Linked DNA regions of Homo sapiens: region 2 is linked to region 1. The links come from fine-mapping of genetic effects on gene expression. A gene starts in region 1. The other region holds a variant in brackets. All regions are shown on one strand. Distances are from middle to middle. Region 1 holds the start of GPRIN2 (G protein regulated inducer of neurite outgrowth 2). Region 2 overlaps LINC00842 (long intergenic non-protein coding RNA 842).

Region 1 (15,055 bases):
ACTGCCTTCCATGGCACAACTAAAGGGCATCAAACGGTGTATCCCTCTTAGGGCTATACAGCTTAAACATTTTTTTTTAGAGAGAAGGTCTTGCTGTGTTGCCCAGGCTGGACTCGAGTGCCTGGGGCTCAGGCAATCCTCCCACTTCAGCCTTCAGAGCAGCAGGGACTACAGGCACATGCCACCACACTGGGCCTGGGCTGCATAGCTTTTGCAGCCCACTTTTTGCAGGTGCAGGTTTGGTGGGTAGGGGTCGGTTGATTTAAGGAGTCAAAAATGCAGACTTGTACCAGCCAGACTCATGGTTCTTTGGTAACACATGCCCCTTAAAATCTCAGTTGGCTTTCTGCCTATTTGTGGCTAGTTATCCTCTGGGGCAAGTACAGGTTGGGTATCCCTTATCTGAAATGCTCGGGGCCAGAGTGTTTCATATTTCAGATTTTGGAATATTTGCATTATCCTGGCTGAACATCCCTAATCTGAAAATCCAAAATCTGAAATGCTCCAATGAGCATCATGTGTGCTCAAGAAGTTTTGGATTTTAGAGCATTTTGGATTTCTGGGTTTTTGGTTTAGTGATGCTCAACCTCCTTTAGATTAGCAGTATTTAAGCCTAAAAATGGTGGCCTTTTATTTATCAGCCTGTATGTTATATCTATTCACCTCCCTCTCAACCTGAGACCAGCGAAAACACTCAACTTGGACTGGAAGGCAGCTTCCTTGATCTGGTCTTTGTGGCCGAGCGGCTGTCATTGTCAGGTTGAGAAACGTAATCAAGTGTTTGAGAAAGACTAGGGTCCATAGTCTCGTCTCCTGCTAATCCTGCTTCTTCAGAAAATTATTCTATATCTGCCTCAGTTTGTGGTACAGAAGCAATAGATTTTTCTCTTTATTTTTTTAAATAAATATAATTTTATTCTAAAGGAATATTATTATATGGCAACACTTTGAGAACCATAAAGGTGCCTTTGAAATGTTGTTAGAAAATCACTTAAATCATATTTTTTATTAATAAATTGATGCCATTTTCAGGCACAGTATTTTTTTGGGCAAGCACTGTACAGCATAATTCAAAATATACCCATTTACAGAATCCAATTAGGTATTTTTCTGCTCACAATTATATGATGGCTGATTTCTGCTCACAATTATATGATGGCGGATTTCTGCCTACATTATGATGTGATATGATATGATATGATATGATATGATATGATATGATATGATGGCTGATTTCTGCCTACATTATGATATATAACTGCTCTACAGAACATGAAACAGAATTTCATAACATCAGTTATATTTACACTCTACTTTAAAAATCTTTCAAGATATAAGAATCAAGCTATCAAATATGGAGTTTTTAACAAGCAATAGTTTTTTTTTTTAGGTCTGAAAACTTTTTAAACTGAGGTTATAGCCCATAGGCAAAGGGAGCTTCTTTCAGCACTGCTGTATTCTCTTCAGTATCTGCCTTCCTCGGGCTAGCTCTGTCCACGTTCTTCTGGGTCATGTAGGACTCTGTTGAGAGTGGCAAGAAGCATCCAGCAAACACCTGCATTCTGAAATTTCCAACTGTTTCCTTTAGAGCAAGAGCTGACTTTGCAAGGTATTGCAGGAATCAGTTGATCGACTGCTATGGCATGGCATAAACAGGGTTTCCAGATCATCATATTTATGTATAGCATTTAAAATATGTTTTCAGTTTTGTTACCAGCAACACAGCCCTTCTTGGTAATAATTAGTATACAGCCTTTACTAATAATTAGTATACAGCACTAATAATTAGTATACAGGCTTTCCTTCTGCAAGAGAGCACTCACCCCAAATAGTGACTGAAATAGACTGGAGGTTAATTTCTCTTTCATGGAAAACCTAGTTAGAGCTAGTCCAGGGCTGATAGGCAACCACAGTGTGTTGGGACACAGGCTCCTTCTCTTTTGTCACTCTGACATCCTTAGGGTTTTAGCTTCATCTGATTGATATAAACTGGCTTCACACCATGACTTCATTCCTACCAGGGGAGAGGGAAAGGGGCGAGGCACATTTCTTCTGAAGTGCATGACCGAGAAATTGCAAAAATTACTTCTGCTAACATCTCACTGCTGAGAACCTAATCTACAGCATGTTGGGTGCACGATGCCTGGGAAATGTGGTCATTATTCTGGGCAGTTATGTACTCAGTTAGAGGAATTCTATTACTATAGAAGGGGACAATAAGTATTGGGGGACAATTAGCAGTCTCTGTCTCGGGATGATCCCCCAAATGAAATGGGGGCTGGATTGTGGGGAGCTGAAAAAGCAACAGATGTCTACTACAATGCCTCTCCTCTGAGCACTCCAGCCCCTTCTATTCCCTTCAATCCTTGTGACCTAATTGTCCTTTGGGCATCTGTCTCAGGTCCCCTGAATCCCCCATCATGTAGGCTTTGGGGCCAAGGCACCTCTGATTTAGCCTATATTGTCAGCTTGCAGCTGATAATTATTATTAGGGACTCAGGAAAATGTCTGTGGAACTAAATTGAGGTAGTAATAGGCATTTCTGAATCAACTGCCTTCCATTCATTCATTCATTCATCCAGCCAGCCAGCCAGCCAGCAAACATCTATTATATGCTAAGTCCCAGGGAGTCAGTGTCTTTTTGTCAGACAAAAAGACAGCCTTTTCATTTATGGCTCTTTTGGCTAGAGGGGTCTCTTGTACCCTAGAGATATTTTGCTAGAAAAGCAGATGCTGTTTAACTGAATCAAAGCTCTCTCTTCCTTAGGCATTGATACATCCCAACTTAGCATTTCCTCAAAGCTTGCACAGAGGCTGTCCCCAGCGGTAATTTGTGCTTTGGGACAGCTCAGTATCAGGTTCCCTTAGTCTGGCAACAGTGTCTTGCCCTTTCCTTTGGGGAACCACTCTTCACTAGTCTCTGTGACCCACTGTCAGCCCTACTGCAGGGCCCCACCATTTTGGGAAGAGCAGTGACACAGGCTGGTCAATTGAAGAGCTCTCTCTCTGGTCCAGGATTGTCAAGTAGGGGCAGTAAGACTTGATTTGTGGGTTGTTTAGATCCAGAGATGTGAGGATGTAGATTTAAGGTTGCCAGCAACTTTCTTTCCCAAGAGGAGAGAGACTACGGTACCTCAGTACTACCCCCATCATTTCTTCTTGCTCTGCTATTACATAAAGAAGTCACCTCTTTCCTCCTATTGAACTCCTGAATCTCAGCCCATTGAGGACCTTATTGCCAGTAGCAATTCTGGCTCCTGTATCTCCTGTCCACTCCTTCTCAATGGGTACTTCTCCCTAGCAGTCAAATGTGCTCAGTTCGTTACAATGTGCAGTGGATACTTGTTTCTGGTCACTCAGGCTTCAACCTCCCTGCTGGGGAAAACTGTCTTGTGAGCAGTCTCGGTGGGGCAGTGGGTGATCCTAGAGAGGCATTGGGCCAGGTATTCCTCCAGGTATGTCGATCCAAGGGCAGAGGGCATGTGGCCATAGCTCGGCCAAACAAACTGCCACTCCACTGGGATTTTGAATCTTGAGCTGAGAGACACACCAAGGACCATGGACAGGAATCCTTTCTGTGGAGGTGGCACTGGGGAGCAAGTGGTTCCTCCTGTTGGGATCTGGAGTCACCTGGCTCCTGCCTTGAAGAACATGGCTGAAAGCATTAGCATCTGGAGATCCCTGCGATCTTTTGACATATCCCCTTTTGCTTAACTTTTTTTTTTTTTTTTTTTTTTTTTTTTTGAGACAGACTCCCGCTCTGTTGCTAAGCTGTAGTGCAGTGGCACAATTTCTGCTCACTGCAACCGCCACCTCTCGGCTACAAGCTATCCTCCTGCCTCAGCCTTGGGAACAGGGGGACTACAGAAACATGCCACCCTGCCCAGCTAATTTTTTTTTTTTTTTTTTTGAGATAGAGTCTTGCTCTGTTGTCTAGACTGGAGTGCAATGGCGGTGCGATCTTGACTCACTGCAACCTCCGCCTCCCAAGTTCAAGTGTCCTGATTCTCTTGTCTTAGCCTCTCAAGTAGCTGAGATTACAGGCAGACGCCACCATACCCGGCTCATTTTTTGTATTTTTAGTAGAGATGGGGTTTCACCATGTTGGCCAGGCTGGTCTTGAACTCCTGGTCTCAAGTGATCCACCTGCCTTGGCCTCCCAAAGTGCTGGGATTACAGGTGTGAGCCACTGCGCCTGGCCATCCCTTTTTGCTTAACTTAACCAGACTTGCTTTCTGTTGTTTGAAATAAAAGAAACCTACTACAGGATGCAGATAATAAAACAAGCAAGCAAACAAAAAAAAATAGCATTAAAAAAATGCCTCTCTTGACCCTACATTCCTTCCCAAGTGACACCTTTCTTCTCCCCTTTATGGCTGTGTTTAAAAGAGGCATCTGCACATGCACCATCTCTGGTTCTCTCCTCCAGCTCATCCCCCAACCCACGCCAGTGGCTTCTGCCTCTGCCACCTCACTGAAGGAGCTTGCTCCAAGTGCCCTGTGTCACCATGATGTCCCAGTTTCCCACTATCTTTTCTGGGTGCTCCTCCATCCTTTGTCACCTGGTGACTCACAAATGGGTCCTAAGCCCTCTCCTCACTCTACTCTTTCCCTGAAGACCTTATCCACCCCTGTGACTTCAGCAACCACCCCATGTCCATGACACCCAGACTTCTGAAAAACTCCGGTCCTTGGCTGGGCATGGTGGTTCACGCCTGTAGTCCCAGCATCTTGGGAGGCAGAGGGGGCGGATCACCTGAGATCAGGAGTTCGAGACCTGGCCAACATGGTGAAACCCCACCTCTAGCAAAAATACAAAAATTAGCTGGGCATGGTGATGGGCACCTGTAATCCCAGCTATTCAAGAGGCTGAGGCGGAAGAATCTCTTGAACCCGGGAGGCGGAGGTTGCAGTGAGTCGAGATCACGCTATTGCACTCTAGCCTGGGTGACAAGAGTGAAATTCCATCTCAAGGAACAAAAACAAACAGAAAAACCCCTCCAATCCTGTAATGTGCAACCCACCTGTCCACGTGGTGCCTCAAACATCCCAGTGTGCCCCCGCTGGACCCCTGAGTGCACCCCACACTCATTCCTCTTCTGTCAGGGTTCAGAGTCTCAGCAAATGGTAGTTGGCCCATGTGGTCCTCAGGCCTGAGCTGCTCTCTACCAAAGCAATCTACACATATCCATCCCTTCCTTCCCCCATGCAGTGCAGCTTGTACCTCCAGGACCTGACCCAGGAGGAGCTCAGTAAATATTTGATCAAGTGACTGATAGCAGCGATAACACTCCACGGGACACGTTCACAAACACCCTCTTCCCCCAGCCCTGTTAGGTAGGTATAATTACTACCACTCTGCAGATGAGGAAACTGATGCCCAGAGAGATGAACAGTTTTGCTTGGGTGTGGGGTTGCACAGCCAGTGAATATGTGGGGGAGTTGAGATTGGAATTTAAGTGTGACTCCCCATGCTGGGTTCTCCCTGGACAGCTGCCACAGCCAGGGGAGCCTCCTTGCCAGGGCATGAATGGAAGAAGGGGGCCAGTTGGACAAGGAGTGATGCCCTGGGGTGAGGGCCAGCCAGCTGTGTTCACAGGTAGATTGCATGGCAGACATCTCCTGACACCCAGCCCCAAGAAGGCTTCCTTGAAACACACAGTGAGGTTCTTGGTTCTTGAGATGTCCTGGGAGCTGAGAGCCCCAGGTTTGGGGCCTGGATCTGGCACCAACTCTCAGTGTAACCACAAGCAGTCCATCCCTTCTTGGGGCTCAGCTGACTTCACTAAAGAGGGAATATGAGTAAGATGCCTAAGATGTGGAAGCAGAGGTCCTAATTCCTGGACAGGGGCAGAAGTGGGTAGTGGCCTCGGCAAACAAATCCCCTATTTGCCTCCTTTAAGCAGGATCCCCCTACCAGGCAGTGTGTGATGGTGAGGCCCAAGCCTGGGGTCTGACGTCGACACCCCTGTGGGCATTTGGCCAAAGGCAGCCATCTGCCAGAATCTGAGAGCTGCTCTCAGACCTCGCTGGAGAGGGCTACCTGGGGCAGTCTGAGTCTCTCTGGGCAGACTGAGGTCCTTTGCTACCCAAACGGGGAGAATTAGAGATACTGTTGGCTCCTGGGCACTGGAAGGGAGGAACGCAGGCCTCTCAGCACAGGGCTGGGCCAACAAGTTGGGGGTCCCGGCACAGGGGACAACGGAGAAGTGCCAACATTGGGACCCAATTATGTGATACTGGGGCCCAGAGATAGTACAGGTGCCTCATACCACGTGGCCCTGGGTGGACAGCAGGAATCTATTGCGAGTGGCGGGAGGCCGGGGCTGCCTGTCCTGCGCCCTGAAGCTGGCCAGCGGTTGTGGAAACTGGGGGATATTGAGGGAACCGTAGGCCCAGGTCCTCAGCCTCATAGTGTGGAACCTGGCGATCCCAGGGCCTGGGCTGGCCCCCGGCGTCACGGGACCGGGAAGGCGCTGTGGTGCTGCGGGGAATTGCGGAGAAGAAGGCGGGCTCCAGTGGAGGTGGCTCATCCCCGCACGGTCACTGCCCTCGCCCGCTGTTGGGGTCCGCGGCTGGGAGACTGAAGGCCTCAAGTCGGGCTGGGTAGGGGCACGTGGGCAGGGAAAGGGGTGGTAGATTACCAGTCTTCAGGGGCGGGGCTGGAGATGCAACCCTAGGGAAGGAGTCTACCAGGCTGGGCTCTTGAGGGGCAATGGAGGGCTCCGGGGGCCAGGCCAGGCCAGGATCATGGAGTTCAAAGGACTGGAGTGAGGTTTGGGGTCCATGAGAGTGGAGCTCAGAGGATGGGACGGTGGGTCCAGGATTTGGGACCTGGGGCTGGAAAGTCCGAGGCTAGTGGAGACCAGGCCTGGTATCCCAGACGAAAGGGCCCTATAGGAAACGGGGTCTCGTGGGCGGGATCTGGAGCCAGAGAATTGTGAGAGGCGGAGCTAGGATGGAGAAGGCGAGAGGAAAGGGGTAGCCGCCGGCGCGGAGACCTCAATGCGGGGCGTGGTGCGGAGGGGGAACTGGAGCGAGGGGCACTGGAGCGAGGGGGTGGGGCTACGAGGAGGTGGACTTGAGGGGCTGGGTCTGGGGCCGGAGAATCGTGGGGAGCTGCGCCTATACACCCGGGACGGTGGGGTTGCGTCGGGGAAGTGGGAGTCTTGGGGGTTCGCTGGGCAGCCTGGAGAACAGGCGGTCGTGGTGCGGGCGGGGCCGAAAAGACCGAGGACAGTGGGGACCCGGCCTGAGGAGGGGTCGGGAAGGAGGGGTGGGGGCGCGCGGACGCAGATCCCGGGCCGCGGCGGGGCGGTGGCAGGCTCCAGAGTGGCACGGGCCCAGGTGAGCGAGGTCTCCGCCCGCCGCCCCTCCCGCCGCCCCGGTGCCAGCTGCCCCGCTGGCCCCTCCCTGTACCCGGCGCTTGCTCCGCGGGCCGGGCCGACGGCGGCGGGCGGCGTCTCGCGCCCAGGCCAGGTCGGCTCTGGCTCCATCTTGGGCCGCGGCACCTGGCACCTGTGGCGGCCGCAGGAGCAGCGCTTCCCCCGCCTGCGCGGCCCCGGCGGGCGAGAGGGTGAGAGGCTGGCTCCGCGCGCTCCCGTTGGGGCGGGGGGCGTGGTGGGCGGCACCTCCCCCTTGCTGAGCCTCAGAACCCACTCCTTCCCGCTGCCTGCGCTCAGACCCCCGGCATCCTGGCCCCTGCCCAGCGCCCAGAGCCCCCGGTGGCCGCATCGCACTCCCCGCGCTCCGCCTCTCATTGTCCTGTCCTGTCCCCTCTTCTACGTCTCCTCTGCCCATCCTCCCATTTTCACAAGTCTGTCCGGGACCCTGTCTCCTTCGGCCTCCACCCCTGCTGCCATCGCTCCTCCCTCTCCCCTTCTTCCTTTTCCCCTCCCTCAGCCTACTGCGCCGCCTACCCCGCCCCCAGCCTTGCTGCCCTTTGGCTTCTCCTGTCCCGCATCATTACCCCGGCCCACAGCCCCATTTGCCTGCAGTCGCTGCCTTTGCTCCTGAGAAGGTCTGTAGCCTCGTTTCGGGCCCGTATTGAGCCCCCTTCTCCCTAAGTCCGGGTGGGCTTTGTGCAGGAGGGGCGGGAGGGGAGCTATTCTGGGCGAGGCTGCGTGGTGCGGTGCTTTCAGGCCTTTGGCCCCGCAGCAGGGGCGGCCTGTGCTTGGCGTGCAGAGTGCAGCTGGGTAGACGCTGTTACTGCATACGGGCCTGTGTGTCCCAGGCTGGGGCATGAGTGCTTGTGAGCGTGCAGATAGGGACACACCGGCCGCCTAGGCTGCTTCTAGGCCGGGGCACCCTCTCCACCTAGGTGCCCCCCAGGGATTGTGGGCAAATCCTCCCCAGGGGAGGAAGCTCAGGGGCTGTTGGGCGCCTAGGCCTCTTCCTGGTGAGCAGAGCCTCATCCATGGGGCCACTGACCCCACAGTTACCCCAGAACCCTTTCCTGGCACAGCTTGTGACCCGGGGCATGTAGCCCTTAAGGCACGTTCATTGTGAAGGGCAGGTTTTGTCTCCTCCAAACCCTCCCTTTAGGAATGCTGCCTGCTGCTTTGCCCAGAGTTGGCCCTGAGTGTTCCTATCAGGCCCCGTTCACTCTGGGGTGGATTAAACCACCTCCTGGAGGGTGCTGTATCCCCACTGTGCAATGGGGGTTTGTGCTGTGTGCATTCCTGCCTGGTCCTTGAGAGGTAAGGTCCATATTTTAACATAGAACCAGTTTTCCTGCCTGATCATATAGGTTTGCTTTTCCTGTTTTGGTTTTGCCGGACACATAAGTCATCATCCAAATGCTTGCCACTTAACTAGAGGGGACTTGGGCCAGGCGCTGTGGCTCATGCCTGTAATCCCAGCACTTTGGGAGGCCGAGGCAGGTGGATCACCTAAGGTCAGGAGTTCGAGACCAGCCTGGCCAACATGGCGAAAACCCCATCTCTACTAAAAATACAAAAATTAGCTGGGCGCCGAGGTGCACGCCTGTAATCCCAGCTGCCGGGAGACTAAGACAAGAGAATCACGTGAACCCAGGAGGCAGAGGTTGCAGTGAGCCGAGACTGAGCCATTGTACTCGAGCCTGGGAGACAGAGCGAGACTCTGTCTCACAAACAAACGAACGAACAAAACCAAGAGGGGACTTAGATGGATGCCACAGTGTTGTCTGAGATGGAGCCCACTTGTGGTGGTCTTGGTAGTCCCCTGGGCATATCCCAAAGGCCTGGGCTCCTCTGCTGTGGCAGCATGGCGGGAGCTGGACTCTGTACGTTGACTCAAAGGTCTCTATGTTTGGGCTAGTCTGGAAGTGTCTGAGAACTGGGGGCTTTTACTCAAAATGACATTGGTTGATTGCTACATAGGTGGTTGATCTTCCAGTTGCTGACAGGTGGAACCTGAGGCAGCAGGACAGCCTGGCATTGGCCACGGGACATCGGCCACAACCATAGCAACTTCGGCATCAAATGGGGCAGGAGAGAGAACATTAAGGTATCGTTCAAAGAATACTAGAGGTCTTGGATACTTCTGTATGCCTGTTCTTTATCTTGTCCTAAAAGATCTTCCGAGGGTCCCTTTAGGGCAAAACCAGAACCTTCTGTGTTGTTATAAAGGCAGGGTGGGTGTGCCATTCTGGGCATTTAAAGTGCAGACTCTAGACTTGTATGCATGCGTAGCCTCCTAGGTTAACATTTAAAATAGGCTCTGGGAAACCTAGTTTGGTGATAGGGAGACTGGGGACACTGATGGTGACCTGGTCCTAGGATGGGATGAAGGTAGCGAGGATGGGAAGCTAGAGGAGGCTAACCTTTGGGGTGTCTTGATGGCTTCTGAAAAGGGCCTCTCTGGCCCCCAGTACTAATACTTGTTATACCATGAACTTAAGCTGCTCTTGATGGGAGGGGAAAGAGAAGATTATTGTTAACAAACACTATTGCAGACAGTGCACATGCTGTCACATTTGGTCTTCACAACAACCCTGCAGGGTGGGGATTTATTTCTGTTTTGCAGATTGAAGAAACTGAGGCTCAAAGAAGTTAGGGGTCCACCTGTGAGTACATGCACAGGAAGGGGAAGAGCCCCCATTGGAAGCAGAGCCCTGCCCCTTCCTCCTCACCCCTGGCTCCCTGGGAGGCCCCTCCTCTGGCCCAGTCCACAGCACTGTGACAGGCAGTGTGGAAGCCTCTTTCCCCCAGTACTCCCCTCAGAGCCCTTCCTTCCTTCTGAGCTGGGAAGGCCAGGTTGTAGTTAGCCAGGCCAATCCATTGGGGTTCTGAATTAGCCACTTTCAGCTGTGTGTTCTTTGACATTTCTGAGCTGCTCCAGGCCTCAGTTTTGTCACCTGCCACTTGTGGAGGGGGAATGGGGAAGGGAACCAATAGATACATAGCCCACACGGGGGTCTCTGGGTGATGACTAGCCCTGGGTGCTGGGCAGCCCTCTGGTGAGACAGGCACAGTGGGATGCTCATTGCTCATGGCTTCTCAGTGGGTCTTGGTGGGGGTCTGAGGACCTCATTCCACCTGTCTCCTCAGGGGCCAGAGGCTGCTGGCCTGGCTGTTTATGGCCCCCCTCCCTGGGAGGGTGGTGGGGTTTGGCCAGAGGCTGTGTGGATGTCCAGATGGGGCCTCCCTGGGGTCTTGGACCTGCAACTGAGTGGTTGTCTCCCTGCCAGGGGCTGGCAGTGACCACAGCTGTCCCAGTCAGGAGGAACACCTCCTGCCCTCCTCATTCTTGCAGCCTCAGGAGCTGCTAAGAAGCATGTTGGGCAGGTGGAGATCCACTCAGTGACTTGTTCCATGGCATGTCATGAGCACGATTGGCAGGGCCAGGCCAGATCAGTAAAAAGGGTGAGAGCTGCGAGGCATAGGCCTGCTCAGTGCTCGAAGGGGAGAGGAGCTCAGCTGCCCCACAGGTGTGTGCCCTTGGGGGTCACTGAGCCTCTCTGAGCTTATGGAATTCTCCTGTCTGTAGAATGGAGATAATGACTGTCTCAAGAGGTTGCTTGCACAGTTATATGAGACAATGTATGCAAAGGATGTGGCACGTGTCTGGCCCTTGGCGAGTGATCAGGCCCTGGCAGCTGTTATTATCATCGCTGTTACGGGCTTTATTGCCCTCCTTTGTTTGTATGTCCATCTTAGAGCTCATTGAGGGCAGGGTCTGGGTCAGATTTCTCTCTTGGCTACTCCTCCTCTTCCTGATCCTCCCAGGGACAAGTCTGGCTTCAGCCCCGTGAAGCAGCTGGGATGGGACATCCTTACCAGGCCGGGGCTGTGTTCAGAGCTGCACAGTCCTGTACGGTAGCCATTAGCCTCATGTGGCCAGTTAGATTCAAATAAAACTTAAACATTCAGTGTCTCAGTTGCAGTAGCCCCCTGCTGAGTGCTTGGTACCCACATGCCATTGGTGCCTACCTATTGGACAGCACAGGGTAGAATCTTTCCATCATCGCAGGAAGTTGTGCAGAGCTGGAGTCTCAGGGACTACAGCACCAGTATCATCCTCACTGTGGCTCAGCAGCCACCAGCCATCTCCTGAGTGCTGGGCTGCCAGGACATTTGTAATTACACAGAAACCGAGTCCCACAGCCCTTCCCGAATTTCCTCTCGGGTAGCCTTGCTCACCTGGTCGGGGAGGTTGTTGCCTGGAAGTCTTTATCAGCCTAGGCTGGGAGGGCAGGGCTGGGATTGCCCAAATGCAGCTGCTGCCTCCTGTCCCCACCCTGTTTCTCCCACCTCTCCTGCCTGGCAAGGAGTCCCAGAGTGATCTCCCTAATTCACTGCTGTGGCCAGGGCCGAGGTGGCCCAGACACTTTGACCCCACTGCTCCCCTCATATGCTCTGGACACATGGCCTCTTTCCTCCTGCCCACTCCGCTCTCCACCTGAACACCTTCTTGCTTCTCTCACTCCAGGCCTGACTTACGTGGCTGGTCCTCCAGGAAGCCTTTTCTCATCTCTCACCCTCCGTGAGCTCTCCTGCCTTGGTGGTGCCCTCCCTCAGACCCCATTTTTGGCACTCAGTGCCCTCCTCTGTGGGTGTGTTCTTGTATTTGCTTGTTCTCTTGGTCAGGCACACAGCAGATAATCCTCTGAGTGCCGACGACACATCAGGTCAGTGCTGGGTGTTGGACAGCCAGAGGGGAGCAGGCCACAGGCCAGGCTTTGCCAACTTCAGGCCTGTGGGGAGGCTGACAGTTGGCCAAACTGTTCCATGCAGGCCCAATGCTCAGTCAGGGATGAAGGCTGCCTGGCTGGAGGGTCGGGAAAGGGGCCCCAGGAAGAGATGCAGAAGTGGAAAGGGCCAGAACTGGCTCTAGGCTGCAGCTGCCAGGTCCAGGGTGGTCTTTATGGCTGGGGGAAGTGACAGCGATGGTACGGAGGGTGGGGGACAATGAGGATGCAGGTACACTGGGCAAGAGGGGATTAAATGTCAGGCAGGATAGGTCTGATTGATGGTACTGGGTGGGCATCTTATCTCACTGCTGCACCGTCCCCAGGGGTACAGAAAGGTCTGAATGAATCCCATGTTCCCTAGCCCTACAGCTGGGCACGCAGTAGGGGCTCAGGAGATGCTGTGGAATCAATGACCAGATGCTGAATGAGTCCCTCATGGAAAAAGCTGATGCATGGGGCCTCTCCTTGCCCCTGGAGCTAGAGGTAGGAGTCAGGGAACCCCAGAGACATGCCAGCTCAGCAAGGCTAGGCCAAGGAGGATGGGGGTGGTTGTGGAAGCCCAGGGTGATTCTCAGTGTCCTCTGGTCATTGCTCCCTCGTCCTGTGAACTTTCTCTGAGCTCCCACTCTGTACCAAGGAGACCCTGTCCACAGTGAGTTGGATACTGCCAGTCCCAGGAGGAAGTAGCCCAGTATTGGCCTGTCCAGCTGTGCCCGTTAAGAGGCCATAGTGCTTCCGTGCTGGTTGACCAAGAGCTGTTATCCCACAGCCCCACCCCCTAGGGCTGCAGTTTCACCCCCAAAGCCCCAGCAGATTTGGCTCTCTCCCTTCCCCTCCCACACAAACCAGCCAGTAAAGAGTTGAGAGCTGATAGAGTGGCGGCCTCCAGGACCCCACCCTAGGGCAGATTCTAACTGCTTGAGACTGATGATGAGATAATTTGCAGTGTCATCCTTGTGTCTAATGTGAGATGACCTTGATTTGAAGTGTCTGGTGTCTTGTCACTCACTGCCTTGCATATGGTTCTGACCAGTCAGGCAGGCTGGGACTGAAGGTGGCTCCCTGGTGAACCTAGCACTGTGGGAGTTCATAGTAGAATCGGCTTAGGTGCTGCCACCCAACTCAACTCCACTCCCTCCCTTTCTCTCTTCTGCAGGCAGCCATGAGCTCCAGCCGCCCCGAGCCGGGTCCCTGGGCACCCCTGAGCCCCCGCCTTCAGCCCCTGTCCCAGAGCTCTTCCAGCCTGCTGGGTGAAGGCCGGGAACAGAGGCCAGAGCTCCGCAAGACTGCCAGCAGCACCGTGTGGCAGGCCCAGCTGGGCGAGGCCAGCACCAGACCCCAGGCCCCGGAGGAAGAGGGGAACCCGCCTGAGAGCATGAAGCCAGCACGGGCCTCTGGCCCCAAGGCGCGACCCAGTGCTGGAGGCCACTGGTGGAGCAGCACTGTGGGCAATGTGTCCACCATGGGCGGCAGTGACCTGTGTCGCCTGCGGGCCCCTAGTGCTGCTGCTATGCAGAGGAGCCATTCAGACCTGGTCCGTAGCACCCAGATGCGGGGACACAGTGGTGCTCGGAAGGCCAGTCTCAGCTGCTCAGCCCTTGGCAGCAGCCCTGTCCACAGGGCTCAGCTGCAGCCAGGTGGTACTTCTGGCCAGGGTGGCCAGGCCCCTGCAGGCCTGGAAAGGGACCTGGCTCCTGAGGATGAGACTTCTAACTCAGCCTGGATGCTGGGGGCGAGTCAGTTGTCAGTGCCACCACTAGACCTGGGGGACACAACTGCCCACAGCAGCAGTGCCCAGGCTGAGCCCAAAGCTGCTGAACAGCTGGCTACCACCACCTGCCATGCTCTGCCCCCAGCTGCTCTACTCTGTGGCATGAGGGAGGTGAGGGCTGGTGGCTGCTGCCATGCCCTACCTGCCACAGGGATCCTGGCCTTTCCCAAACTAGTGGCGTCAGTGAGCGAGTCTGGGCTGCAGGCTCAGCATGGGGTGAAGATCCACTGTAGGTTGTCTGGGGGGCTCCCTGGGCATTCCCATTGCTGTGCCCACCTTTGGGGTCCCGCTGGGTTAGTCCCAGAGCCTGGCTCTAGGACCAAAGATGTGTGGACCATGACCTCAGCCAATGACTTGGCCCCTGCAGAGGCATCCCCGCTGTCAGCCCAGGATGCTGGTGTGCAGGCGGCCCCAGTGGCGGCCTGCAAGGCTGTGGCCACCAGTCCGTCCCTGGAAGCGCCTGCAGCCCTGCATGTGTTCCCAGAGGTAACTCTGGGGTCCAGCCTGGAGGAGGTGCCGTCCCCTGTGCGGGATGTGCGATGGGATGCTGAGGGCATGACATGGGAGGTGTACGGAGCTGCGGTGGACCTGGAGGTGCTCGGTGTGGCCATCCAGAAGCACCTGGAGATGCAGTTTGAGCAGCTGCAGCGGGCGCCCGCCAGCGAGGACAGCCTGTCTGTGGAGGGCCGGAGGGGGCCACTGCGGGCTGTCATGCAGTCCCTGCGGCGCCCCAGCTGCTGCGGCTGCTCCGGCGCGGCCCCCGAGTGAGGAGCTGTGGCCCTTGGAGCTGGCCTGGGCCCACTGACTTAGTCCTAGACCTGGGCCAGGGACGGTGGGGGCTCCGTGCCCCCTGGACCCACCGGCAGCTGGGCACATCTCTCACCTGAATATTGGCTGCCTCCAGACCACAGGACTGCAGCCTGGGGCTTCCGGCCCTACACAGCTGGGCTGTTTTCTTAAGGGCTTGATTTCCAAGGGCCACATCTCTGCACCTTCCGGGCTCTGAACTTTGAGACAGGGCTTTAGCACTGTGCAGAGGGGAGATCCTGAGTTTTCTGTAAAAAATGACCTTTTGTTCACTCCACCCTCAGAACTCTGCCATGTTGCCT
Region 2 (15,055 bases), 150 kb after region 1:
TAGGAAAGGAGGTGTGTCCTCCTTGGAAGGGGAAGCTTCATGGTGGGTGAGCTGAGGGTAAGGGGTGGGTGAGGGCCATTTGAAGAGTCACCTCCCCTACATTCTTTTATCTTTTGGAGCCTCCATCCACGCCACTTCAAACAATGAACACACACATCCAAGTCAGTAAGTGCACTTTGTGTATATCTATATAAGTGATGCGCAATTACTATATAACAGTTCACTAGCTGACCTGACATTATTCACATATCGTAGGCATGTGACTAATTGTAGGTGTGTAATGAAGTGTTCACATCTTATTACATATTTAATTCCTAAGGCATTTCTACAGTTTTATTTGAGAATTTTGGAACTGCCAGTATGTTTTTCATGTTTCAAACCTTTTCACAGGCCCTGAAAAAACCCAAAGGCCTTATATTCTGGGACCGTAATGGACAAAACAGCCCTGGGAAGTATGCTTGAGAGGATGGCGAAGGCTGGGTTTGCTGAGGGAGGTGCCAGCTAAGGTGCTGGGCACACCAGAGGCAAGGGATCTGGACCACAACTGTCAGTTTGACGAACACACTAATGGTGGAGTGACCCCCACCAGGAGTGGCCAGCAAGCAGGGTCCAACAGGAAAGACATCTGGGAGGCCAGCAGGTAGAATCCTGGCTCTGCCACCTTCGTGCTATGTGATATCAGCCAAGTTACTTGCCCTCTCTGATTCTCAAATGCTCGGAGGCCCTTTGACCTCTAGAGTCTATGGGACCTGAGTGACCACAGGGCTCTTGTTTGTTGGTGGCTGCCTCTTTATTTAACTCCTTTTCTCAAATACGGTCTATGGGCTTTGCTTAAAGTGAGGTGTCCTGTGCACACTCTTCTCCATGACTTTGAGGCCGTGAGAAGCCCCGCCCTGCAGAAGGACTGAGGAAACTAGTGCTGGAGTCTCCTTTCTTGTATCAGTGAAGGAAGGGGAGAGAGGAGATAAAGTGCTCAGGTTACAGAATGTGAGGATCATGCCCCTTTTTTCCAACTGAAGACATTCCTAGGCATTTTATCTCCCCTGTTGCAACTCCTAAATCACAAAAACCTTATGCATCCAGTTTGGCTGACATCCACCTGCAATGGGAGTGAGTGAGATTGAGCCACTCCTCAGGTGAATGGAAAATTAAGGCCAACCAAGGCCCACCCCATGCCCCACTGTGGGGTCTAAAAGGAGCAGGCACTGGCCTGCTTTCTTTTTCCCTAAAGAAAGCTCTTTGGGGACCCAGCAGAAACAGCAGAGGTGGGGATGCGAGCTTCCGCCTGCATTTGTTCCAGGGTGGGCCAGTGAGGATTTGGGAGGAATGGTGTGGAAAGGCCCTGCCCAAGAAGGCTGGATGCTGGCTGGGGAATGCCCAGGGTGCCAGCTCCCTACCCTGGGGAAAGGCCAGGCTGGCATATGCCGGAGCCAGGGTCCAAGGTCACAGAGAGGCCACACCTGGGCACCCCTCCCAGCAAGGGAAGGTCCAAGCTGGGAATTACTTCTCTTTGGAAAGTGAGGGGAGTGGTACAGAAATATTGCTATTGTTGCTGTTGTCCTGTCACTTCTGGCATTGGAAATGGTGTTGAGCTTCTACGTGACGGGCATTGGAGGTCAAACCTGAAACAGGTGAGGCCCATCCCTTTACTAGGCTCACGTTCTAGGTAGGGAGGAGGCAGGTACCTCCTCCACCTAAGAAACAACAAGAGATAGAGAATGCAGTAACTGTCCTAAAGAGAAAAACCAGGGGATGGAGAGAGAATAATGGTTGTCAGGACGGGTCAGACTTTAGGATGGTAAATGAGGAGTGGTCTCTGAGAAGGGATGAGGCAGAGGAAGTGAGGCTCAGGGAAGTGAAGCACTTGCCCAAGGCAGCCTGCTGGTCATGGCAGAGCTGGCAAGCTCATTCCCTCCTCATTATGTCAACCTTCTGGGACCAGAGTCTGGGCAGGGCAGAAACTACTGCACCAGGGGTGCGTGGCTCCAGCAGAGAGAGACAAAGTGCCCCATGCAATCCAGAAACTGAGCCCTCTGGGCTCAATCTTCAAAGGAATGACTCTCAGAGTTGTGTCCCCTGCCTTTTCTTCACCATGGAACTTTTCCCAGCTCCACTCTGGTGGGCTTGGGGACAGGACCTGCCCTCTGCAAAGTGATGACCAAGGATAAGTCGCATTTTCAAGGAGACCTTGGAGAACACCACCCTCTTATTGTGCAAAAGAGGAAACAGGTCCAGAGAGGGTGAGCCATTTTTTCAGCATCACACAGCTGACCTGGAGCAGAGTTTCCTAAAAGCTCCCTCGGTGCTCTTTCCCCTGCTGTGGCTAGACCCCTCCACAGGAACTTAACAGGAACCCAAAGGAACGAGTCACTCATGGCAGAATCACTAATGTGATGGAGGGCAGGAGTGAGAGACGGCATAATGTCAATGCTGGCACACTCCTGGCACACGGGAAGCTGTCCATGAGTGGTTGCTTCCCACCACTTCCATCGCCCAGTTTGGGACATGTCTGAGATCCAGTGCTGAGCCCAGGGTCTAGCATGTCATGGGAGCTCAGGAGTTCCTAATTGACTACATGAATGCTAAGGTGTGGGATGTGCTCCTTCCTGCTTTCTCATTCTCAAAGAATACTCTTATACACCTGGTTGTGGGGAGGGTATATAGGCAATCAACTTTTGCGTACTCACTTCCATTGTAGGATCATGCATGCATGTGGACGTGCGCACACACACAAACACAAATGCACACACACACACACACCTGCCTTCTCAAACTTGTGGGACCAGAAAGGATGCTGCAAGGCCTAAGATAATTGCTGGTCTCTTTTTTCTTATGCTTTAGCAGGAAAAACACACTCTTCCAAGCACACAGCTGCAGAGGTCTTCCTGAGCATCATGTAGTCTTTAATCATGTTGTGGAGGACAGGATGATCTGTGCCTCAGGAATCAGCTTAGTTGATAACTCAATTCCATGGCTGGGCCCCATTTGTAAGCAGTCATGGCACATCCCATGGAAACCTATAATCTAATTATGGCTGCTGCATCAGTCCTCATCCTTCATGCTGTCATCCACAGCTCCTCACCACCCATCTTACTTGGATGAAGGCTCTCTGAGGTATGAAGGGCAAACATCTGATCCTTCCACTGGAGGCCTAGGCTGCTTTCCTTATTCTCACAGCAGCCACAAGTATTGGGATCACAGCTTGAAAGGCTCTTCTTGGTCCGTGGGACTGGGGCAGTCAGGACAATTTCAGGCCTTTAGTGAATGGAGGCATTTCATTACTTCAGATCTCACCTAGTCTTGGAGGTCTTGGGCATTTTTAGAACTCACCCAGCCAGGCTGCCACTCAGGGTGAGGCTACCTGGATTGTTTATTGGTAACGAATGTTTGAATCAGAGACTGTTAGAAAACCAAAAATGAAGATTTTAACAATACAAAAAGCAGAACCTAAAGAGGTTTAATCAGTAGGATTGGTACCAGTTCTTTGTATGTCTGATAGAATTTAGCTGTGAATCCATCTAGTCCAGGGCTTTTTGTTGTTGTCGTTGGTAGGTTTTTTATTATTCGTTTAATTTCAGAGCTTGATATTGGTCTAGTCAGGGTATCAGTCTCTTCCTGATTCAATCTTGGGAGATTGTATGTTCCCAGGAATTTATCCATTTCCTCTAGATTTTCTAATTTGTGTGCATAGAATTACTCACAGTATTTTCTGAGGATCTTTTGTATTTCTGCATGTATCAGTACGCCATACTGTTCAAGCACATGGACTTTGCAGTTGGACATTCCTGAGTACAAATTCTGCTTCTGGCAGAGCATTTAGGTGACTTAGTCTGCTGACAAAGCTGCAGTATCTTCATCTGCAAATGAAGATGAATTGTAATATCTTTGTCATTTCTGACAGTACTTATTTGGAAATTCTTTTTTCTTTGTTAATCTAGCTAGTGGTCTCTCAGTCTTGTTTATTTTTTTGAAAATCAACTTTTGGTTTCATTTATCTTTTGTATGGATTTTTGCATCTCAATTTCATTAAGTTCTTCTTTAATTTTAGTTATTTATTTTCTTCTGCTAGCTTTGGGGTTGGTTTGCTCTTTTTCTCTAGTTCTTCTAGGTGCAAAGTTAGACTGTTAATTTGAGATTGTTTTAACTTCTTGGTGAAGGCATTTAACGTTATAAACTTTCCTCTTAACACTGCTTTGGCTGTATCCCAGAGACTTTGTTAAGTTGTATCTCCATTTTCATTACTTTCAAAGATTTTTTTATTTCTGCCTTAATTTTGATTTTCACCTAGGAGTTAATCAGGAAAAAGTTGTTTAATATCCATGTATTTGTGTAGTTTTGAGAGATCTTCTTGATATTAGTTTCTATTTTTATCGCACTGTGGTCCAAGAGTGTGTTTGGTATAATTTCAATTTTTTAAAATTTATTGAGACTTGCTTTATGACTCAGCGTATGGTTGATCTGAGAATATGTTCTGTGTACAGATAGGAAGAATGTATATTCTGTGGTTGTTGGGTGGAGTGAATGTCTATGAGGCCCTTGTAGATAAAATAATAGCTGAAATTGGAAAAAGAGGTTTAACCAGCTTTACTCATTTAAAATGCAAATGCGCTATTAGATAAGGGCCACATCACTTGGCATCAGGCCATAAGACAAGATGTGTCTGGATTATCCTGGGATTAATACTCATTTCCAAACTTCTAGGACTATTGAGAGTTGGTTTTTTTTTCTAGAAATCTCTGACGGACTACATTTGTTCCATAGTTCAGCCTCATCATCTTATGAACTATTTAGATAAGGGATAGAAAGTATCTTTTGAATTCATGTCAGCACCAATAGATTGGTGGTGGCTGCTTTAAAAACTGGGCCTAGAAGGATTCTGAATTCTTAACTGGGCTTAGAGAGAAAGAATGCCATGTTCAAAGAAGAAAGTTATCAATGGCTGCAGGAGGGGTGAGGTGGCCCATGTGTCACATGACTTGCTATCTTTGCACTGGGCAACCCTAACCTCTGAGAGGGTCCTTGTTGAATAAGATAAGTAGGTCCAGCCCTCAAGTTGTTATCAGTATAGCAGAGATGGTGAGCCACGAAGTGCTGCCAGATCACTGTATTGTGTTCTGGTCATGGCAGGTGCATGTATCAGTATGCCATACTGTTCAAGCACATGGACTTTGCAGTTGGCCATTCCTGAGTACAAATTCTGCTTCTGACAGAGCATTTAGGTGACTTAGTCTGCTGACTAAGCTGCAGTATCTTCATCTGCAAATGAAGATAATACCCACCTCACAGGGTAACTGGGGTCATTAAATGATATCAGATTTCAAAGCATTAGATGCTCACCTTGTAGTAATCATTATTACTATAATTACTATTGGTGTGGAAACACAGACACGCCTCTAAACTGTCCTGGGTACAGAGAAGGCTCTACAGACAGGCCCTGTTTTAAATTGCAAGTGATACTCAGGCAGTCTTCAGTAGACAAAGGCAGAGGCCATTCAGTGCAGGGGAGGACATTCTGTCCCCTGGTTAGGAAACCTGAACTATGGAATAGAAAAAAACTTAGACTCAATATTCAGAACAACTTTCCTGAAATAAAGGAAGACTTGAATTTTCTGACCGAAGGGTAAATTGATTTAGAGAAGTCAATGCTGAGATGACAGATCCTAACAAAATGAATGTTTGCCTTCAAAGAAAAGAATCCTAGGAGTATCCAGTAGAAAACCATCTCTCCAAAAACCAATCAAGACAACAACAAAAATAAAAACAACTACCCCAAACAATCACATGAAAACTCAAACCAAGAGAAACACTTGCAGAATGTCAGAATAAGGACTTCTGAAAATCCTTCCTTAACAACAATGAGAGCACTGGCAAAAATGTCAAAATTAACATTTTCAGAGTCCTGGAAATTAACCAAAGGCTTTCAGCAATCCAAGTTAGATTTATTCAAGAAACACAGCTGAATCTCAGTAAGAATAGCAAATTTTGTGGTGTTTTAACTTGCCTTATTCGTAGTCTTCTTTTCCAAGCTCTATGATAGACTTGAACATAAATGTTCTCAGCTAGGCATGGTGGCTCACTCCTATAATCCTAGCACTTTGGGAGGCTGAAATGGGAGGATTGCTTAAGTCCATGAGTTTGAGACCAGTCTGGACAACACAGAGACAACCTCTGTCTTACACACACACACACACACACACACACACACACACACAATTAACATTCTCACAACCATGACAGCTGTGAAAACCAGCAGCCTGGTAGCCACTGGGGAGGACAGAATAGGTTTAGAGCTCTCCAAAAATCCCATCCTCAGAAAGTTGTTACTATTTGATCTGTCTGACAGCTCCCTGGAAAAGGCACATTCTCAGGGATTGTCTTTGCTTAACATGGTTTGGAGCTTAGTCTGTGTGAACAGCCCTATCCTGAGGGAATCTGTCAAAAACAATCAGCAAAAATTGTTTGACATTGCAA[C/A]TGCCTGAGATGGCAGTACCAGTTGGGGCTAATAAGAGGCTGACCAAAACAGTTACAAGGAAAAACTGGGGAATGAGGTATTCATAGAGGCTTTGGAAAAGCTCTGACATATTCTTAAGAACCTAGAAGGCCATGTGCACGTGCAGGGTTGTACACATGTCCAAGACAGATCTAACTAGAGCTTAACTTTTGTTTGGCTTTGAGGCTCTGTGCAAGCAGGAAGTAAACTCTGAGGCAGAGTTGTCAGCTGCTTGCTGAAGCATCGAAGGCATGGCTCAACACAAACAAAGCTTCCCAGCAAAGGTAGGTAGATTTAGTTGTGCAAGGAATTTAAAGAAATCTCTGTCCAAAAATTAATGGACAACTAAACTGAGGAAAGACTTCGGTGGCTACACATGACAAAAAGTATACATTAAAACTTAGTCCAGGAAATTCACTAAACAGAGAAACAGCAGCATCGGCAACAACAACAAACAGAAGCAACAACAAATTGTGAAGAGGGGTGAGGTCTGATTTTTGGAGACACCACATTATTTTATTTAAAACATTCAGTTTTTAAGAAAAAAATATGAGAAATGCAAAGAAACAAAATGTGTGACCTATTCACAGGGAAAAAGCTGCCATTAGAAACTTTTTCTTGAGGAAGCCCAGACATTGGACTTACTATCAAAGATTTTAGAACAAGTCTTAAAAACATGTTTAAACAACTAAAGGAAAGCATGTTTAAAGAATTTTAAAAAGCATGAAAATGATGTCTTACCAAATACAGCATATCAATAAAGAGATAGAAAATTATATAAAAAAGGGAAAAAAATAAAATTCTGGGTTGAAAGTGCAACTGAAATAAAAAATTATTAACCAGAGGGGCTTAACAGCCAATTTGAGCAGGCAGAAAAAAGATTCAGTAAGTTGAATAAGGGTCAATTGAGATTATACAATCCAGGGAACAGAAAGTCAAAAGAATGAAGAAAAATGAACAGAGCCTCAGAGAGCATACCAATATGTATATAATGAGAATCCCAAAAGAAGAGGAGATAAAGGGGCAGAAAGAATATTTGAAGAAATAATTGCCATAAACTTCCCAAATTTGATGAAGAACATTAATTTACATGCTCAAGAAATTCAACGAACTACAAGTGGTATAAAAACAAAGAAATCCATACCTAGATACATCAGAGTCAAACTATCAAAAGCCAATGACAAAAAGAGAATCTCGAAAGCTACAAAAGAAAAATAACTCAGCATATACACTCTAGCTTCAAATTCCTCAATAAGATTAACAACTGACTTTTTATCAAAACCATTCAGGCAAGAAGGCAATGGGATAACATATTAAAAGTATTGTAAGAAAATGACTGTCAACCAAGAATTCTATATCTAGCAAAGGTATCTTTGAAAAAAAAGAAGAAATGCCCAGATAAATGAAAAATGAGAGAGTTCATCATGAGTAGATCTTCCCTACAAGAAATACTAAAAGGAGTCTCTCAGGCTGAAATGAAAGGACACTAGATGGTAACTTCATCCACACAAAGAAATAAAGAGCACTGCAGGGTAATTACATAATTAAAAAGACAGTATAATGTATTTTTAATTGTAATTCTTTTCTTATCCTATCTGATTTAAAAATAGCTACATAAATGAGTAATTATAAAACTGGGTTGTTGGGCTTATAATGTATAAAGATGTAATTTGTACGATAATATTAACACAAAGGAAGGGGGCAGGAAATGGACCTATATTGAAGCAATCTTTAAATATATTGTTGAAATTAAGTTGGATTGATATGGATTAGATTGTTTTATGATAAAATGTTATAATCCCCAGGGCAAGAATAAGAAAATAACTAAAAATATATGGTAAAACAAACAAAAGAATTAAAATGATATGCTAGAAAATATCAATTGAATTCAAAAGAAGACAGTAATGAGGGAAAAGAAAAACAAAAAAGATGTAGGACATATAAAAATAGCAAAATGGAAGGTGTAGAGCCTATCTTTTCAGTAAATCATATTAAATGTAAATAGAGTAAACATACCAATCAAAATGCAGAGGTTGTGATTTTAAAAAATGAATCAACTGTTATCTATAAGAGACATACTTTACATTCAAAGACACAAATAGGTTGAAAGTAATAGGATGGAAAAAGATAATCCATGAAAGTAGTAACCAAAGGGGAGCTGGAGTGGCTAGCTATACTAACAGTAGACCAAATAGACTCTTAAGACAAAAATTATTACAAGAGACAAAGAAAAACATTTTATAATTGTAAAAGTTTCAATCTATTAAGAAGACATGGCAATTAAGAATATATATGCACTTAATAGCAGAGATCCAAATACATGAAGCAAAAACTGAAGTGAGAAATAGAAAATTCAACAATTATAGTTGGAGACATCATTACTCCACTTTCAACAACGGATAGAACAACTAGGCAGAAGATCCACAAGGATATAGAAGATCTGAAAAAAACAGTAAACCCACTAGAGCTGGTAGTTACCCACAGAACACTCCACCACCATCAACAGAATAGACATTCTTTATATGTGTATATGGAATGTTCTCAAGAATAAATCTTGTCATGAGAAGAATAGTGGCCCCCAAAGATATCCATGCCCTAATCCCTGGAACCACGTTACATTACATGACAAAAGGGGCTTTGCAGATATGATTAAGGGTATAAACCTTGAGATGCGGAGATTACCCTGGATTGTTTGGGTGGGCCCAATCAAAATACATGAGTTCTTAAAAGTGGAGACACTTTCCTAACCATGGTAGGGAGATGAAATGGAAGGAGGAGGAGACAATTGAGGTGTGAGAAAGGTTTAAGTGACTACTAAACTGATGGACTTGATCCACCATTGCTGCCTTTGAGGATGGAGGAAGGGGACTATTAATAAGGGAATGTGGGTAGCTTCTAGAAGCTGGGAACAGTTCAGCTGACAGCCAGCAAGGAAGTGGGAATCTCAGTCCTACAACTTGCAGGAACTGAATTCTGCCAACAACTCGAATGAACAAGGGAACTCTCCGAGAATTTCCACAAAGGAATACAACCACACAGATTCCTATTTTTAGCCCAATAAGACATGTCAGACTTCTGATCTTCAGAACCACAAGATAATAAATTTGTGTTAGGTGCAAATTTGTGGTAATTTGTTATGGCAGCAATAGAAAACACATACATGTATATTCATCCATAAAACAAAATGCAGTAAATTTAAAATAATTGAAATCATATAGAATATGTTCTCTAACAATAGCAGAGTGAAATTCAAAACCAAAAACAGAAAGAAATTTCGGACATCCACAAATATGTAGAAATTAAATGACACACTCCAAAATAATCAATGGGTCAAAGAAGAAATCACAATGAAAATTAGAAAATTATTTGAAATGAATGAAAATAAAATCACAACATATCAAAGTGTATGGGGTGCAGTCAAAGCAATACTTAGGGAGACTTTTATAGCTGTAAATGCCTATATTAAAAAGAAGAAAGATCTCCATAACCCAGACTTCCACCTTAAGAAAGTAGAAAAGGAAGCGCAAACTAAGCCCAAAGCAAGCAGAAAGAAGAAAATAATAAAGATTGTAGTGGAAATAAATAAAACAGGGAATAGAAAAAACACTAAGGGAAAAAACAAGAGTAATTGCTTCACTGAAAAGAGCAATAAAATTGGTAAACCTTTAGCTTGACTGAGAAGAAAAAAGTTATGTGCCCTATTTCATTCCCTATACATTAAATTATTAAATTATTAATGTATAGGGAATTAAATTATTAAATTAATAATGTTTAGAGAATGAAATAGGGCACACCACTACCACCTCATAGAAATAAAAGGATTATAAAGGAATACTATAAACAATTGTAAGACAGCAAAATTTTAACTTAGGTGAAATGGAAAAATTCCTAGAAAGACAGGAACTACAAAAACTGAATCAAGAACAAATAGAAAATTTCAATAGACCTTAGTAAGTAAAGGGATTAAATTAGTAATTAAGAAACTCACCATGCACAAAAAAGCTCAGTACCAAATGGTTTCGCTGATTAGTTTTCCCAAACATTTAAAAAAGATTATTGTTAATTCTTCACAATCTTTTCCAAAAATAGAAGAAACAAACTTCAACTCATTCTATGATGTCATTATTCTCATGATACCAAAACAAAAGACATTCTAAGAGAACACAGCAATATCTTTCATGAATATTAATACAAAAATTATCAACAAAATACTAGCACACTAAACCTAGAAACATATAAAAATGATTATGTATCACAATCAAGTGAAATTTATTTCAGGAATGCAAAGTTGGTTTAACATAATAAAATAAATCTAATTAATACACCACATTAATAAAATGAAGGATAAAATCCACCTAATCTCAATAGATGCAGAAAAAACATTTGACAAAATCAATATCCTTTCATGATAAAACACTCATAAAACTAGAAATAGAGGAGAATTTATGAAATCTAATAAAGAACATCTATGAAAAACCACAACTGACATCATCCCAAAGGGTGAAAGAGTGGATACTTTCCTTCTAAGACCAGTAAGAAGGAAAGGAAGTCCATGCTCACCACTTCTATTCAACATTGTATTAGAGATCTGAGCTAGGGCAATTATGCAAATAAGTATGTAAATTTAAAAAATAGCATCCAAATTGAAAAGAAAGATGTAAACTATATTTACAGATGACATAATCTAAGGAATTCACAAAATAACTATTACGACTAATAAATGAGTTCAGCAAGATTGCAGATACAAGAACAATATGAAAAACAATTGTATTTCTACACACTAGCAATGAATAATCTGAATATAAGATTAAGAACAGAATTCCATTTACAATGGCATCAGACAAAATAAAAGGCTTATGAATAAATTCAACAAATAAGTCTAAGACTTGTACGTACTGAAAACAATAAAACACCACTGAAGGAAATTAAAGAAGACCTAAATAAATGAAAAAACATCCTATGTTCATGGATTTGGAAGACTTAATATTGTTAAGATGTCAATGTTTCCCAAATTGGTCTACAGATTCAATGCAATCTTGATTGAAAGATTATGTGCCTTTTTCTCAGAAGTTCACATGCAGATGCAAGAGACCCAGAATAGCCAACATGATCTTGAAAGAGAGAGGACTACACTTCCTGATTTAAAAACTTAATACAGGTTGGGTGCAGTGGCTCACACCTGTAATGCCAGCACTTTGGGAGGCTAAGTTGGGAGGATTGCTTGAGCCCAGAGTTTGAGATTAACCTGGGCAACATAATGAGACCCCATCTCTACAAAAAATAAAAAAAAGATTAGCTGGGTGTGGTGGTGTGTGCCTGTAGTCCCAGCAACTTGGGAGGCCGAGGTGGGAGGATCACTTGAGCCCAAGAGGTCTATGATGCAGTGACCTATGATCAAGGCACTGCACTCCAGCCTGGGCAACAGAACAAGACCCTATCTCAAAAACAAAATGAAACAAAACAACCCCCCCAAACCCCAAAGAAAACCAAACTTACTACCAACATCTAGTAATCAAGATAGCCCAATACTAGAAATGTAATAGAATTGAAAATCCAATATTAAACCTTCACATTTATGGTTAACTGATTTTTGACAAAGGTGTCAAGACAATTCAAGAGGATTAAAAAAAAGCCTTAACAAATGATGCTGGGACAACCGGATTTCCACATGTGAAGGAATGAAGCTGGACACTTACCTTACATCATGTACAAAACTTAACTCAAAATGGACCAAAGTTCTAAATGTAAGAGCTAAAACTATAAAACCATAGAGGCAAATGTTCATGACCTTGGATTGGTAAAAGGATTATTAGATATAATACCAAAAGCAGAAGTGACCAAACAAAAAAAAATAAGTGGGGCATTATCAAAATTGACAGCTTTTGTGCTTCAAAGGACACCATCAAGAAAGTCAAAAAGCAACCCACAGAATGGGAAGAAGTATTTGCAAATCATATATATATACATATATATATATATATATATATAAAATTTGATAAGCCACTTGTATCCAGAATATATGAAGAACTCTAACAATTCAGCAATAAAAGACAATAACCTAATTAAAACATGGGCAAATGATTTGAATAAATATTTGTCCAAAGAAGATATACTCATGATCAAAAAGCACCTGAAAAGATGCTTGACATTATTAGTCATTAGGAAAGTGCAAATAGAACCGCAATAAGATACAACTACACACCCATTAGGATGGCTTTCATAGAAAAAGACAGGCAATAAGAAGTGTTGGTGAAGATGCAGAGAAATTGAAAACCCCGTTCATTGCTGGTGTGAACATAAGATGGTGCTGTCACTTTGGAAAACAGTTTGGTAGTTCCTCAAAAAGTTGGGTGTAGTATTATCATATGACCAAGGAATTCCACTCCTAGATACATACCCAAGAGAACTGAAAACCTATATCCACACAATATCTTGTACAAGTGTTTTCAAAGCAGCATTATTCATAACACCCGAAAAGTAGAAACAATCCAAATGTCCGTCAACGAATGGGTAAACAACTGTGGTATTCCTTTCCAGTGGTAAGAGACAGAATTGATTAGGGAAATGAGGCAGATTCACTAAACTCCACTGAAGGATGGACCTGAGCCAACAGTTCACAGGAAAATGACACAAAAGGCCTTTAAATATATAAAAAGCATCATGTTTAAAGCTTCACTTGTCATCATGGGAAGTCAAACTAAAACACTGAATTACTATACTTTGTCCACCAGATGAGTGAGGATCAAATTTTGAAGATGTACTGTCTTAGTAAGAGGTTTAGGAAATTGGTATTTTCCTTCTGTACTGATGAGAATGGGGACTTCTTGACAAAATCTATCTTAAGTACAATTCCACATGCCCTTTGATCTAAACACAATATTTTAGGAGTCTATCCTATGATGATACAAAGTAATATAAGAATGTTTATTGCAATAACTTCCAATAACAAGCTACCGAAACCAGCCTAAACAACCAAAAACAGATTAAATGAGTAGAGATTGGTTAAATAAATTATGGTACATTCACAATGAAATCTTACACTGCTGTTAAAAAGTATTAATTTTTCCTAAAGATATATTAAATACATATAATTAAAAATAGAAAGAAGACTAGCATTAGACAAAAGCTAGAGAAGTAGGGAAAGTACATATATTTTTGCGTATTCCTAGAGAATTTCTAGAAGCATATACAGGAAACTTAACAATCGTGAGAGAGTTTGGAGAGGACTTTGGCTGGGGGTTCTGGAGTGGTGCAGAGATTTATTTTCACCACTTACTCTTTTGTACTACTTGATTTTCTAGAAGCATATGCAAGATGAATTTCTAGAAGCATATACAAGAAACTTAATAACTGTGAGAGAGTTTGGAGAGGACTTTGGCTGGGGTCTCTAGAGTGGTGCAGAGATTTATTTTCACCATTTACTCTTTTGTACTACTTGATTTTTATCAAGTGCGTGCATTACTTTTTTGCCTTTTAGGTTTTTATTTTATGTATGTTTAGACTTTTAAATTTTCAAATAATCATAGATTGACAAGAATTTGTGAAGGGGTCCCAATATCCTTCACCCAGTTTCTCCACTGTTTACGTTTTACATTCTACAAAACAATATCAAAACAAAGAAACTGACATTAGCACAATGTGTGTTCTTCTATTACATTGTATCACATGTGTAGATTCCTGTAACCACCAAGACACAAAACTATCCCATCATCCCAAGATCTCTCCTGCTACCTCTTTGTAGTCACACTTCCCCACCACCGCCTCTAACGCCTGCCAACCACTAATCTGTTTTCACTGTTTATAATTTTGCCCCTGGAAGAATGTTATACAAGTGAAATCGTACAGTATGTGACTTTTTGAGATTGGTTTTTTTCACTTAGCCTAATGCTCTTGAGATCCATCCATTTAGTTATTTGCATGAATAATGTTTCTTTTTATTGCTGAATATTGGCATAGATGTGTCACTTAGTTTAAGCATTCACTTAGTGAGGGACATTTTGGTTCTTTTCTAGTTTCTGGCTATGATAGGAAGACACAGGAGAAAATCATCTGGACCTAGGAGTTGAGGATGAGTTCATAGGCATGGCACCCAAGTACGATTCATTAAAGAAAGAATTGATAAATTGGACTTCATCAAAATTAAAAACTTTGCCTCTGCAAAATATTCTGTTAAGATGATGAAAGGACAAGCTATGGAGGGGAGAAAATATTTGCAAACTGCATATCTGACAAAGGACTCACATTTACAATGCATAAAGAGCTCTCAAAACTCAACAGTAAAAAAAAAAATCTGATAAGAAATTGGGCAATAGACATGAAGAGACATTTCATGGCCGAGTCAAATCAGCATGTGGAAATATATTTAACATCATTAGCCTTTGGGGAAATGCAAATTGAGATCATGAGAAATCACTGCACACTTATTTGAGCAGTTGAAATAAAAATATAATGATAAAACCAAATGCTAGCAAGGATGCAGAGAAACCAAATTTCTCATCCCTTGCTTGTGAGAATATAACATGATACACACAGCCACTCCCAAAAATAGATTGACAGTTTCTCAAA

Evidence for each region. PIP is the estimated chance that this variant, and not a neighbour inherited with it, causes the effect.
Region 2: its variant is the best candidate, but not a certain one, in a credible set for the expression of GPRIN2 in cerebellar hemisphere (GTEx, PIP 0.87).

The regions. Positions count from the first base shown.
Region 1 is chr10:46,549,019-46,564,073 of GRCh38, reverse strand. GPRIN2 (G protein regulated inducer of neurite outgrowth 2) reads left to right here and starts at 7,416. Exons shown (of 3, transcript NM_001385282.1): 1 at 7,416-7,576; 2 at 9,379-9,489; 3 at 13,332-15,055. The coding sequence starts at 13,338. The coding sequence ends at 14,714. RefSeq lists enhancers at 5,969-6,674, 7,380-8,085.
Region 2 is chr10:46,399,238-46,414,292 of GRCh38, reverse strand. The region is part of intron 1 of LINC00842 (long intergenic non-protein coding RNA 842); the gene reads right to left. Among named protein-coding and RNA genes, the nearest start is that of LINC00842, 8.4 kb to the right of the region's middle. The variant C/A (reference allele first, on the strand shown) is at 6,472.